Linked DNA regions of Homo sapiens. The protein of the gene in region 1 purifies or fractionates together with the protein of each later gene. This does not show direct contact. Each region holds a gene or a part of one and is shown on either strand. Other genes may lie near its edges.

Region 1 (7,756 bases):
TACTGGCTTACAGGCCCATGAGAGCTCTTCCTCCATCACAACCCCTTTCCGGGGCATTTACCACACGCCACCTGTGTTTCAAAAGCAGGTGATCATGGAATCCCTCAGAGCAGAGGCCACATCCTACTTGTCTCCGTGTCCCTTGAAGCACACATTAGAGTGCCAGGCACACAGTAGGCACTCACTAAGTTATAATGCATAGAATGAAAAGATTTTCCTGGTTGCCCTTATTTTCTGTGTATACACAGCCTATCTTCAGAAGAATTAAGAGTCTATAAGCTTCTGAATATAGAATATTTTATATCAAACTGTTGGAAAATATTTCCAAAGGATTACAAGGAACAGCTTCCATTTTTTTAAAGCTTAAGTTTATTTCTGAACTGTGCTATCATAAAGCCATGGTGACTAAATTAGGGGGGCAAAGCCAAGTGACCACCGGAGAAAACATATCTTTGTGATACTGAGCTGGTTACCTTAGTGATTCCCGCTAGGTCTATTCCATTGTTTTCCCTAATGTCTAATGACCACATTCCCAGCCAGAAGTGCCTGTGGATGTGCGCACTGGTTGTTCTCCATCCCAACCCTCCCCTTGGCTCTCTGCCCTCAGTGTTCCAGTCCCTGACCTCCAGGCTCTGCCCTCTGGCTTCAAGTTGGGTTGGCCAATGAGAGGCGCTGCCAAAAGGTGCTTGGATGGGAGGAGAGAGAAGATGGTGTACTTCTCCTTCACTTTCTCCCTGCTTTAGGGCCTTCCATGACCAATGCTCTTGCTTAATGGCCCCTTCTCTAAGGCTCCAAATCTGCCTGGGATCCATTTTCCTATTTGCCCCTCTTGCCTTTTCAAGCACAGGGTGGTAAAGGCATATTGCAGTTGCTAATCTCTAGGTGCCTCAGCATTCCTTGTTGGTTCCCTTAACCCCGCCCACACCTCTCAAAGTGATCCCTTCATTCAGATCTTTTCATCTGAACCACCTGAGTTGCTTCTTTATCCTGCTGTTGCCCTGATTGGTACAGTCTGCAAAAAGCTTACCTAAGAGATATCTATGTTGTGCCAGGGTGCTCTCCAAGGCAAAGAGTTCAAAAGAAAACCAGAGGTTCTTTTCTCTCTAGTTTTCTGAACTCCTTAACCACTTTGGTGCTATTTAAATTAAGTAATACAAAATGATGGTAAACCCCAGTTTGCAGATGAGAAGCTTTTATTCATTCATTCATCAAATATTTATTGATTACTATGTGCCAGGCACTGTTCTGACCCTGGGAAAACAGTAAAGTACAAGAGAGACACATGCCCTGGCCACATGGTGCTTATAGTGTAAGGCCACTGTCTCTCAGAAGTCAGGGAGCTCATCAGAGGCAGGGCTAGAACCAGAAAACTGAGTTTCCTTAAGTCCTAACCTTCAGCAGATTCTCAAAGGAATCCATGACCCAAACATGATTAAGAACCACCAAATTAGGCCAAATTAACTCTCAAGCTTCTCCCTTGAACTGGGGAATGAATAATGACTACTCACTCCTAGAAGAAGCTTGATGCTCTTAACTTGAATTTGCAGGGGCATGTGGGCACACACCCACGGTGACACCACCACTCACCTTTCCTGCCCACCCTCCTGAATTCTCCACAAATCTGCCCCCACCTCCTTCTGTTTCTCACACTTTTATAATTAGCCTCACACCAGTCTCTGAGTCACTCCCTCATGGCCCACAAACGTTGGCTACACAACTTGCTGATGAGCTGTTTTTATCAATGGACAGCAGTTGGGAGCTGGATTCAGAGATGTGCCCTCTCTGAGAGCCTGGCATTTCTGGCCCTCCCTGTGTTTCCAGCAAAGGCAGCGATAGTGAAATTTCTGTCTCAGTTGAAGTATTTATGAGACTCATGTTGGAGGCATAACTAAAACTTTGCTGGGGAGAGTCAGGGGTCACTGAGGTGAATTGAGGGGGGCTGTGAGGGTCTGCCTGCCTCCTTCAAGCCCTCCGGAAACATTTGAGTTTCCTCAGAAAGGTTTAAATAGGCCATACTAGTAACCGAATACTTCCCCTGCTCTGGGTCAGACAAGACAAGGGCAACAGGCTGCTGACCTCAGAAAAGGTTGCAGGCTGGCAGACACAGCCCCTTCCCCAAATCTCCCAGCCTCATACCCGGCAGACACACTCAGCTCCAGACCTGGCTGTCACTGTGGAACCCCCTCCACTTCTCCCTGGAAAGCTCACTTCTCTCAGGACCTCCAGCTGCCTTGTCTGAGGCTGAAGGGAAGTCGCACCCAGGAAGACAGGTCTGGAGAAAGGGAAAACCTAGTCCTGAGGCTGCAACTGCCCCGCCGCTGTTCACCCCCCACCCCACCGGCCCCTGCCACCTGCATTTTCCCTTCGAGGGACTATTGTGGCCATGGATGCTATCTGGGTCTGGAAAGAGGTTTGTTTACTCCACAACAGCCCCTGTGAGGCAAGCCCCCTTCGAAGAGGTCAGAGATGTATTTATAGAAACATCTGAGACTCACTTCTCTATTACTTGCACACCTCTGTCTCTTTTAAGCTCTCCCAAATTCCTGACCAAGATGAAATCATGCAGCAAATGGGGAGAATAGGGGAGGCAGAAACCATTTTTCAAAGTGTCTCTGCTTTGAGCAGCCAGGTAGGAGCCGGTTGGAACAAGGACAGAAGGGGCTTCCGAGACAAGCTCGGGTGACAGGAAGCTGCTGGGGTGGCCGTCTTCCTTCCAACCTCCCTCCACCAACAGTTGAATGGCAAAAACATCAGGACACATTGCAAAACAATCTTCCTTCCTCCCCCTGTCCCCTGACAGATGGAAGAGAGGAAAGTTGTGGCCATCATTTACCTGCTGAGATTGGAAGAACGCTGTTGATGAAAGTCGGCTGAGACACGATAGAGAGGAAGAAAAGCTGAAGATAAATTCCCAAAGTCATTGGATTCAGGACAACCATGCTGGCCAGGGTCTGGCGAGGGTCAAGTTAGAAAGGAGGCTGCTGCGGAGCCTTGCTTATCTCTGCTTTTCTCTTCCTCACTGCTGTTTGCGTGCGCGTGTGTTTGTGTGTGTGTGTGTGCGTGTGTGTGTGTGTCTGTGTGTGTGTGTGTCTTTCCCTCTTTCTCTTTCCCTCTCCCTCCTCCTCACCCCCTCCCTCTCTCTCCCTCCCCCACCTCTCCTGTCTCCCATGCCTTTACCAAGAAAGAATGCCAACCATTTCCCATTAAACTGTCTCCATGCTACAGAGAGTTATATTTATCTCAAGCTCCATATCAAATGCCCACATTAAAATTAAGATGTCAAAATTTTCTTTTTTGGAGACTGAGGTAAGTGGCTAGTGAAGAGGTGATGAGAAGGCAGCCAAGTCTCAGATGTTCACTGGAGGCAGTCCTCAAGGGCAGAGAGATTCCTAATTGGTTATGTGCCACCATCTACCTCCTTGGAACTGGGCAGAAACAACTCTCCTGATTCAAACTGAATTTCATGGAGAAAAACCCCTCCACTGTCAGCCTGTGACATTTTTACCCATTGTGTAACAAATGTAAAGTTAACTTTTAATTTTTTTCTTTAATCATCCAATAAAAAGGAGGAAGGAAGTAGTTTATATTTCCAAACAGCTTTCTCTGTGAAAAAGTGTTTCTCTCTCCAAAAGCTGCAACCTTTTGATTCAATGCAAGGCAAAATAAATGAAAACAGTAAAAGTATAGAAAAGTGAATGATTTTTATCAAACTATATTCAGAAAAATAACATCACTAACTTAATCTTTGGCTAGACAAAATTATTCAAATAAAAATTATCACATTCTTAATACCTTTTATGAGTTTATAAAAGCCTGTTATAGAGATGATTAGATGACTAAAACAAAATAATAATTCACAGAGTTGTTCATTTTGCTTTAATTTACATATTACATGCCTCATAGGAGTTAACTCAGAAACAGTCTGCTAGTTACTGGATGCTGGGGTGGGCATCCTGCCCCTGTGCTCATTATGGGGAAGGTGGAGTTGGGTCAGGGCGTGGTATAAAGTGATATTTTACAGCTGTAGCACCACACTTGGGCTTGACTCTCAGCTCTGAGTGGCAGTGGACAAGCTCACCTCTCTAAGCCTCAGTTTTCTCATCCATACAATGGAGACAATGTTCCCTTTAAAGGTTTGTTGGAAAGTTAAGTGAGGTAATGGGGATGAATCCTACACGGATTAGAACTTGCACATAGGAACAGCACAAAGGAGACCCAAGGGAGCCATGGTAGCCTGGGTGCAAAGATGGCCTCCAAAAGTCCTCCCAACCCAGTGTGTGCATGACACTCTTCCCAGCAAAAAGCAGGGCTAGTTCCCCTCCCTTAAATCTGAGGTGGCTCTGTGACTTACTTTGACCAATAGAATGTGGCTAAAGGGACACTGTGCCATCTCCTGGCCTAGGCCTTAAAAGGCCTGGCAGCTCCTGCTTTTGCCTTTTCTTGAAAATCAGCTGCCACTTTAAAAAGTCTGGACTATTGAAGAGGCCACATGGAGGGGGAAGCAGCCAGCCTCCAGCTGTTCTGACTATCCCAGATGCAGCATCAACAGGCGAGTGAGGCCATTTTGGAACATCTAGCCCTGTCCTGGTCTCAGATGATGCCAGCCACAGGAGTGACCCCAAGTGAGACCCTCGAAAGAACTGCCCAGCCCAGATTACGAAGTCATGAGCAAATAAAACGGCTATTGTTTCAAACCAGTAAGTTTTAGGATGACTTGCTCATCAGCAATAGCTAACTGATACAGAGTTGATAAGGAAAGCTTTTGAAAGCATGAAAAATATACCTGAACTACATTCAAAATTTATAGGACAGATTAAAGAGAGGGTACCCCCATTTAGCTGCTCCCAAAATTTTTACAAGAAGGAGCTGTGATTGCTGGCCAAACTCAATCAGGACATTCTCAGGCTCACTCTTGTTAACTCCTGGAGCCCCAGCAGCCAGCTTCCAGTGGCTTGGAGAAGGTACAGTCTACCTGGGAGGAAGGTATCTTTTGAGTAACTTGGTGTCAGAATATGAATTTTTACTATCTAGCTCAGATTCCTCCTCTGCAAAGCCAGTATGACTTCTTCCTTCTCTCAGCACAAAGAATTCACCACTGACCATACCCTTGGAACAAATTCTGTCAATACGTCCTACCGGTGACACCTGCTGCTATTGTTTTTGAACACCACCTTGTGTTGCTATTTAGCTGGCATTAACATCCCTAAAGATAGGGGACTATCCCACAGCTCTATGTACTCTCAAGGCCCCCAGGACAGTCCTTGTCACCTAACAGATCCTCAACAATGTAAGTTACTTTGATCAAATCACACCACTGGGTAGGATGAAAAAAGAAGAACGTACAAAAGTAGCATAACTTTATGCTCCAGCTTTCTGCACAACTTGCATTTCCCCAGCACCCCTTGGAGCCTCTGCACATACAGCTGGGTGGCCTGCGCCTGATACAAGGGAGGGCTTTGGTGAGTATGGTGAGAGTGTGAGAGGGACTATGGATGGCCACCTTGAATTAGGACCCGCAGACAGAGAGGCTAAATTTATAATTCAAGTCACTGGAGAATGAGTCACTGCTGATCTAAAGTTACGACAGGAGCCTCTACCCTTTGAGGAGGCCCCAACACAGAGTTATTTATAAGGCCCCAATACTTATTAAACAATTTTTAGTAAATTTCCATTTCCTTAGGTATCTTATATTTTATGAACCTATTTCTTATAAGATTACCCTAACTGACCAAGACAGAAATTATCATCTTTCTTCAAATCCTCCTGGAAGGGCTCTGATGTTTCCAGAATCTAATAACATAGACTATTAGATTTGTCCAGAAGGAAACTATTTGAGATTTGAGAAAAGCTCACACCAATAAAGCCATTCAAAGTCAGAGTCTTCCCTCTCAGACCTTGTAGGCAGGACTGTACACTGGAAAACAATCTTTTGGCCCCATTAAACTTAAAATGCACATGCCGTCTGACCCAGAAGTTCTCAGAAATACTCATTCACTACCCAGTGGTTTAGGTGCAAGGGTGTGCATTGTTGCCTCAAGTTGGAAACAGCCTAACTGTCCATGAATGAAACATTGGTGGAATAAATCCTGGGACATCCATTCAAAATGTTATGCAGTGACTAGAAAGAATAAGGCAGTCTTTGCAACAAATGGTGCTGGAAAAATTTGACTTCCATATGCAAAACAAACAAATAAAAATAAAGATTAACCCTTACCTTGCCCCATGCATACAAATTATTTTAAAATAGACCACAGACCTAATTGTAAATGCTAAAATATTAAACTTACGGCAGAAAACAGGAGAAAATCTTAGTGACCCTGGGTTAGGTACAGATTTTTTAAATAAGATGCAAAATACAAATCTTAAATTTAAAAAAGTTAAATTGGACATTATAAAAACTTTAATGCTTCTGCTCTTCAAAATAGAATACTAAATTGGAAAGCCAAGCCAAAAACTAGGACGTAATATTTGCCAAACACATATATGATAAATGATTTGTAGCTAGAATATATTAAAACTTTCACAGCTCAATAATAATAAGATAAAAAACTTAATTAAAAGAAATGGCAGGCCAGACATGGCTCACACCTGTAATCTCAGCACCCTGGGAAGCCAAGGTGGGTGGATTACCTGAGGCCAGGAGTTTGAGACCAGCCTGGCCAACATGGTGAAACCCCATCTCAACACAAAATACAAAAATTAGCTGGGTGTGGTGGCACACACCAGTAATCCCAGGTACTCAGGAGGCTGAGGCACAAGAATTGCTTGAACCTGGGAAGCAGAGGTTGCAGTGAGCTGGGCTCACACCACTGCCCTCCACCCTGGGCAACAGAGCAAGACTCTGTTTCAAAAAAAAAAAACTGAAATGAAATAAAGAAATGGACACAGCCTGGACAACATGGCAAAACCCTGTATCTATGAAAAAAAAACAAAAAACAAAAAACAAAAAACAGAACTAGCTGGGTGTGGTGGTGCATGCCTGTAGTCCTAGCTACCTGGGAGGGTGAAGATAAGGGATCACCTGAGCCCAGGAGGTCAAGGCTGCAGTGAGCCATTACTGCGTCACTCCAGCCTGGGCGACAGAATGAGACCCTGTCTCAAAAAAGGGAGGGAAGGAAGGAGGGAAGAAGGGAAGGAAGGAAGGCAAAAGATGCGAATATATATTTCACCAAAGAAGATACATTAATGACAAATAAACATTTGTAAAGATACCCAACATCTTTAGTCATTAGGGAAATGCAAATTAAAACCACAGTGAGATACCACTACACACCTACTAGAATAGCTAAAATTTAAAAGACTGACAATACCAAGTGTTGGTGAGGATATGAAGCAACTGGAATTCTCAAACATTGCTAGTGGGAATGCAAAATGGTGTAACCACTTTGGAAAAAAATGTCAGTTTTTTATAAAGTCAAATATACACTTATTATACATCCAACAATTCTACTCTTCAGTATTTATCCAAGAGAAATGAAACACATGTCCACAGAAAGACTGTACATGAAAGTTCATAACCACTTCATTTGTAATAGCTAAAACTAGAAACAACCCAAATGGCCATCAACCAGTGAATGGATAAACAAACTGCATGTGTACATACAATGCAAAACTACTCAGCAATAAAATGGAATAAACTAAGTAACATGGAAGAATCTCAAGTGCATTATGCTAAGTGAAGGATGCCAGACACAACAGGCTACATACTGTATAATTCCATTAGTAGGACATTCTGGAAAAGGCAAAACTATGGGGC
Region 2 (7,025 bases), on another chromosome or scaffold:
GAGACCCTCAGAGGTCTCGGGCTACCTTGTGAAGCTGGGCCCTGGATCTAAGCCACATGACGACCCCACAGAGCGCCTGTTACTCACGTGGTTGTGGATGAAAAGTCGCATGTGTTTCTGGGGGTAGTGGAGCCGCAGGAGCCGCTGGAAGAACAGGGACACAAACGGCGTGGGCTGTTCGATGAACACGCCGACCAGGACCGTGGGCAGAGCTTCATCCTGCACCAGGGAGGGCGGCACAAGAGTCCAGCAGTGTCCAGTCACAGCACTGCCACTCCACCCCAGGGTGGCCCAAGGGAGTCAGAGCCAGAATCAGAAGCATGTAGACTTCCCAAGAAAGGTGCCCGGGCCGGGGAACTCCAGTCAGGGGGTACGGGGGGGCAGGGAAGCAGCAGGAGGGTGCCCCGGGGAGAGAGCAGCAGGAGCCCAGGCCTGGAACAAGGACTCGGTTGAGGGCCTGCTGTCAGGAGATCGTGGCTGGCGTGGTGTTCGAGGTGAGTCATAAATGAGGATGAGGTTCATGGGATGGGGAGGGGGCTGCAGGAGAGCCTGAAGGACCAGGCAGAAGAAACCAGAACCTGGACATCTCGGGGGAAGCTAGAGACATGCAATCTGAGAGGGCTTCCAGGAGGAGGCACTTGGGTGGCAACCGGGATAGAACCCCAGGCAGGGAGGTGACCCCTTCACTTTCCACCAAAGACAATGGAGTCTATTCCAGAATCACCCATCTCGCCATCTCAGGGGACTGAGCCCCCCGTGTCCCTCAGGCACAGGCCTGGGCGCAGCCTCACCCCAATGCCCTTGAGGCTGCGCAAGCCTTCGTCACACACGGTGCAGCCTGTTTCGAAGGTCCAGAAGCGCGGGATGTAGTTGCCCAGGTAGTTCAACTGCAGCTGTCGGGGAGACGTGGGGTCACAGAGAAGCCAGCCAGCCCCACCTGCCATAGCCCTGACTCACATCTCCCTGGGCCCCCAGTGGGTCAGCACCATCCAGCCCCCTCCCACTCCCTAAGAGGGTCTTGGAGATAATGCTCCATCCCCAGGAGATCACCAAGCCGCTCTGAGAGAGGGCAGGGGAGGGCTTGGCACTCTAGTGCTTCTCCCGAGAGCTTGTAAAATGCAGATTCCTGGGTCCCACCCCGCTCAGAGATTCCATCTGAACAGATCCTGGGTGAAATCAGCAAATTTGCATTTTAAACACATCACATCCTCCTTCCTCTCCCTCATTCCAGCGGTGAAGGACCACACTCAAATATGCTATGAGCTATGAGCCAGTTCCCCAGGGACCAGTGAGGTCCATTCTGTCCCTGGCCGCATCTGCACCCAGTCCCTTCTGTCACCATGAATGCAGGACATCCGTCCTGCTTATGACTATGTCTTACTGTCTGGTGCAAACATGAAATAAAGGTTTACTGAGTGAATAAGTGACTCTGCCCTGGGGTGACAGTGCAGATGGCTCTGGTAGCCCAGCCTAGGCCTGGAAGGGGATGGCAGCCTCCTACGTGTCCTGTGACCAGCAAGAACAGACAGAGTACCACTGACCACCACAGCAGGAAAAGAAGGCATCACGCTGAGCTCAGATGTGAGGACAGAGGCAGTGAGTTCATAGCAGGCCCCAGGAAGGTGGCCCTGGCCCCAGGGAGACACTGTGGGGTCACAGTGAGAATGAAATTAGGGCTCTGGCCCCCTCCCACACTCCCCAGGGGCTGGGGACCCCCTACCTTGGTTGGCCCGTTGCCATGGATCAGGACCGGGAGGGTGTCATAGGCCAGGTTCCTCGCTCTCACATGGCCCATTTCAAACTTGAGCACGACCTCATCTGGGGGTCAGAAAGCACAGTCCCACCCAGCATCAGACCCAGAGGTCAGGCTCAGGGTCCAACCAGCTGGGCTCAAATCCCAGCTGTGCAGTGAGTAGATTATGTCCTCGGGCAAGTCACTTCTCTCTAAGCCTCAGTTTCCTCATCTATAAAATAGGAATAATCCCTTCTTCATGGGGTGAGGGGGAGGATTTGTGTTGAACAAGCGTGGGGCACCAAGCCTGGCCCATCATGAGCACAGAATCCACGGCAACCCCTGTACTTGTTGTGGTTACTTACAGTCAGAAGCAGGGGCTGGGAGAAGAACGAAGACCTGGAACATCCCAGCTCCAGGCACCTCAGAGAAGCCCCAAGAGAAAGGGTCTGGGACGCGCCTTCTCTGAGTAGGCAGAGCAGCACTGAGAAAATGCCAGAGCCACATGCAGGGGAGGCCTGGGCATGATCAGGACAGATCTTGTCCCAGTGGAGGGAGCCCCTGCAGCAGGGTTCCAATACTCATGTTTTTTGTGTGTGTTTTTGTTTTTTGTTTTTTAGAAATGGAGTCTCATTCTATTGCCCAGTGTGGAGTGTAGTGGCATGATCTCGGCTCACTGCAACCTCCGCCTCCCAGGTTCAAGTGATTTTCCTGCCTCAGCCTCCTGAGTAGCTGGGATTACAGGCACATGCCACCACACCCAGCTAATTTTTGTATTTTTAGTAGAGACGGGGTTTCACCATGTTGGTCAGGCTGGTCTTGAACTCATGACCTCTGGTGATCCACCCGCCTTGGCCTCCCAAAGTGCTGGGATTACAGTGCCTGGCCCCCAATACCCATGTTTGACCCTATTAGTCTGCACATAGGAAAATGGGTATTTCAGCTGGGCACGCTGGCGCACACCTGTAATCCCAGCACTTTGGGAGGCCAAGGTGGGAGGATCACTTGAGCCCAGGAGTTTGAGACAAGCCTGCGCAACATAGTGAGACCCTGTCTCTATTTTAAAAATTAAAATAGGGCTGGGCACGATGGCTCACGTCTGTAATCTCAGCACTTTGGGAGGCCAAGGCAGGTGGATCACCTGAGGTCAGGAGTTCGAGACCAGCCTGGCCAACATGGTGAAACCCCATCTCTACTAAAAAAATACAAAAATTAGCCGGGCATGGTGGTGTGCGCCTGTAATCCCAGCTACTTGGGAGGCTGAGGCAGGAGAATCACTTGAACCTGGGAGGCGGAGGTTGCAGTGAGTCGAGAATTCGCCACTGCATTCCAGCCTGGGCGATGGAGCAAGACTCCATCTTAAAAAAGAAGAAAAAAAAAGGAAAACAGATAGCTCCTGACCTGCGTGGATCTGAACTCAGTGCTTCTTAACCCCCAGAAACCACAGGCAAAGGGCATTTTCTGCGTTTCTCTGGGAGCAGAGCCGTAGCTTTCATCAGATTCTCAAAAGGGCCCATTTATCCACAAAATCAGCAATCAGTGGATCCGGTTCACTTCCCTTTTGTAAAGATAAGAAAACTGAGTCCCCTGTGGGGAGGAGGTGTGACTTGCCTGAGGTCACTCAGGAAGACAGGAAGACCTGCGGCAAAGCAATGTCATCACCAGCCACAGACATGAGGCCAGGCCCAGGGATGTTTGCGGCATCAAGGGTCAAGTAGCCTTTTGCTTCCCAAGCTGCCTGTCCCACCAGCTGAGTTCCTGCCCCTAGCCCAGGACTCCTTCACCTGGAAGGTGGGAGGGCCGGGAAAGTGGGGAAAGAGGGCCCACCTGTAAGGACCTGGTATGCAGGGCAGGGGGTCCAGCACCTGCTGTGCGCATCCCCCAACTCCTCCCAGGCTGAATGCTCACTTGTCCCCCGCCCCCAAGAGAGACATGGCTCTGCGCCAGGATATCCAAGTGGCCCCTGGGGACCTGGGGATGAGGCCAGTGACCTCTCAGCACAATGGCCAGAAAGAAGCAGCCCATTTCTCCTCCCTGGGCTCGGGCCCTGCCTGGAATTCTTCCTATCACCCCTCTGAGGATCCACCCCTCCCCGTGGGGGCTGCTCACCCAAGGCTCCATCCAGGTTCTGGAAGATACGGCAGCGGTGGTCCAGGGTGATATTGATCTGCTCCTGCAGGAAAGAAGGTACCAGACTGCAGCAGGGACAGGCCCTGGGGGAGGCTGGGGCTACATCTCACCCAGTGTGGGGAATCTGTCCCCAAGTTCAGCCCTCATTCCCCACACCGACTCTGCCACGTCACATCAGGGCAGCTAGGTGCCCAGAGAAGGCCAGCAGCCAAGCTCCTGGGGTCTACAGTCTAGTGGCTCTACTCACAGAAAACCAGGGACTCTGAACTGGAAGGAATCTAAGAATGCAGCCGGCTCACCTACAACAATGACGGCCGTTAAGAGTAACCAGCACCTGCCAAGCACTCCACTACACGCACATAGCTACTCCAAATATTCTTTTTTTTGAGAAAGAGTTTCGCTCTTGTCACCCAGGCTGGAGTGCAATGGCACGACCTCGACTCACTGCAACCTCCGCCTCCTGGGTTCAAGCGATTCTCCTGCCTCAGACTCCTGAGTAGCTGGGACTACGGGCATGTGCCACCATACCCAGCTAATTTTTTTTTTTTTTTTTTTTTTTTTTGCTAGAGATGGGATTTCACCACATTGAGCAGGCTGGTCTCGAACTCCTGACCTCAGGTGATCCGCCCCCGCCCCCCGCCTCCCAAAGTGCTGGGATGACAGGTGTGAGCCACCGCACCTGGCCGCTACTCCAAATATTCTACACGAGTCGGGTGCGGTGGCTCACTCCTGTCATTCCAGCACTTTGGGAGGCTGAGGCAGAAGGATCACTTGAGCCCAGGAGTTTGAGACCAGCTTGGGCAACATAGCAAAACTTCATCTCTATAAAAAAATCTTAAAATTAGCCAGACATGGTGACGCAGGCCTATAGTCCCAGCTACTCAGGAGGCTGAGGTGGGAGGATCGCTTGAGTCCGGGAGGCTGAGGCTGCAGTGAGCTATGTTTCTGCCACTGCGCATCAGCCTGGGTGACAGTGAGACCCTGTCTCAAATAAATAAATAAACTATTCTACATATATTAATCAATTTAATCCTGACAACATCTCTGTGAGAAAGTATTATCATTATTGCTTTTTTTTTTGAGATGGAGTCTGGCTCTTGTCACCCAGGCTGCAGTGCAATGGCACAATCTCGGCTCACTGCAACCTCCGCCTCCCAGGTCCAAGCAATTCTCCTGCCTCAGCCTCCTGAGTAGCTGGGATTACAGGCACCCACCACCACGCACGGCTAATCTTTATATTTTTAGTAGAGACAGGGTTTCATCATGTTGGCCAGGCTGGTCTCAAACTCCTGACCTCAGGTGATCCACCCGCTTTGGCCTCCAAAGTGCTGGGATTACAGGCATGAGCCACTGGGTCTGGCCCATTATTGCATTTCATAACGGAAAAAACAAGGGACAGAGAAGTTGCCCAATGTCACACAGCTAGTAAATGGTGAGCTGGGATTGGAACCCAGGCAGCCTGGCCCTGAAGTCCTTATTCTGAACCAATGAACAATGCTGCCTCTTTAAGACCCGACAGCCGGGCACGGTGGCTCACGACTGTAATCCCAGCACTTTGAGAGGCCGAGGCGGGTAAATCACCTGAGGACAGGAGTTCGAGACCAGCCTGGCGAACGTAGTGAAACCCTGTCTCTACTAAAAATACAAAAATCAGCCAAACGTGGTGGTGCACGCCTGTAGTCCCCGCTACTCGAGACGCTGAGGCTCGAGAATCGCTTGAACCAGGGAGGTAGAGGCTGTAGTGAGCCGAGATCGCACCACTGTACTCTAGCCTGGGCAATACAGTGAGACTCCATCCCAAAAATAAAAAAATAGGATTAGTGTCCTTATCAATGAGGCCCCAGTGAGCTCCCTACCCCCTTCCACCATCTGAGGACACAGAGAGAAGTCAGCTGTGTCTGTACCAGTTAGAGGGCTCTGACCAGAACCCAACTGTGATCTCACCCTTCCGGCCTCCAGAACCATGAGAAATCCACATCCGTTGTTTGGGAGCCACCCAGCCTATGGCAGTTTGTCAGAGCAGCCTGCATAGACTAAGACACCAACCCAGGGGTTCAGGCCTGAGAGGAGCTGTTCCCGTGCAGCCTGGCCGGTGGATCCCCAGCCCCCTCTCCTTGGCCCGCCCACTGCCTCTTACCCTCTTCTCCGGGTCCAAGAAGATCTTGGTGTAAAACAGCTGATCGCTGTCGCTGTCCTGGCCCTCCCACTCGGCCACCAGTTTGCTGAGGTTGGGGGCATAACCGATGAAGCCTGAAGGTTGGTGGGTGGGGACACCAAGACGGACCCTTAGCTTCCAGCCTCTAAGTCAGGGGCCTCCTCCCACCCTTCCCTCTTATCCACCTCCACTCATATGCCCACAAACCCTGTCACCTCTCAGAAGTCCTCCTGAATTGACAGGAGGTGGGGCTGCAGGTTGGAAATGGGGCTGCCAGTGAATGTCACTTATTAATGAGTTCCTAATGACCCCAAGAATAAGACCAATGGTGCCCACTAAGCTGTACTGTTCAGTGCTGGGCACCATATAGGTGGTGAAGAAACGGATTGTACGAGGAGCCCCTGGAGAGCAGGGCTGGGAGGATACAGGCCTGGTGTCCCTTTTTACAGTTATCTGGGAAACCTGGCCCAGAGAAGGGAAAGGCTGGGCCAAGCTCACAGAGTGCCTTGGGGGCTGAGACCTGGCATAGTGGGGAAGCCCACATGGGCCCCTGGCTAGAGTACAGACTGGTGACAAGCAACCACAAGAGCAATGGGACATCCCTACTCCTGGGCCTGGGCCAGGGCAAGGCCATCTGGACTGTGCTTACTCTGGACCAGTGGAAAAAAGTGTCTGTTGAGGGCAGATGGCAGATCCCCATCTAAGGTTGAAAAGAGGCCTGTGGATTTTATTCTCCGTGCAGTGGAAAGTCATTAAGTGATGTGTGTGAATTTGCATCTTTATTTATTTATTTATTTTTAAGACAATGTCTCGCTCTGTCGCCCAGGCTGGAGTGCAGTGGCACGATCTCGGCTCACTGCAAGCTCCGCCTCCCGGGTTCATGCCATTCTCCTGCCTCAGCCTCCCGAGTAGCTGGGACTACAGGCGCCTGCCACCACACCTGGCTAATTTTTTGTATTTTTAGTGGAGACGGGGTTTCATCGTGTTAGCCAGGATGGTCTCGATCTC

The links. Proteins that work in one complex are often made in the same cells at the same time.
Region 2: the proteins of COLQ (region 1) and PLOD1 purify together in Homo sapiens (co-immunoprecipitation; 3 studies listed by BioGRID and IntAct, with this or other methods). This does not show direct contact.

What each region holds. Positions count from the first base shown.
Region 1 is NC_000003.12:15,518,687-15,526,442, forward strand, and holds the start of COLQ (acetylcholinesterase collagenic tail peptide isoform I precursor), read right to left. Parts: upstream 3,021-7,756; 5' UTR 2,940-3,020; coding exon 2,834-2,939; intron 1-2,833. UniProt on the Homo sapiens protein: Anchors the catalytic subunits of asymmetric AChE to the synaptic basal lamina.
Region 2 is NC_000001.11:11,951,710-11,958,734, reverse strand, and holds part of PLOD1 (procollagen-lysine,2-oxoglutarate 5-dioxygenase 1 isoform 2 precursor), read right to left. Parts: intron 6,113-7,025; coding exon 6,000-6,112; intron 3,906-5,999; coding exon 3,842-3,905; intron 1,819-3,841; coding exon 1,721-1,818; intron 894-1,720; coding exon 792-893; intron 220-791; coding exon 88-219; intron 1-87. UniProt on the Homo sapiens protein: Part of a complex composed of PLOD1, P3H3 and P3H4 that catalyzes hydroxylation of lysine residues in collagen alpha chains and is required for normal assembly and cross-linkling of collagen fibrils.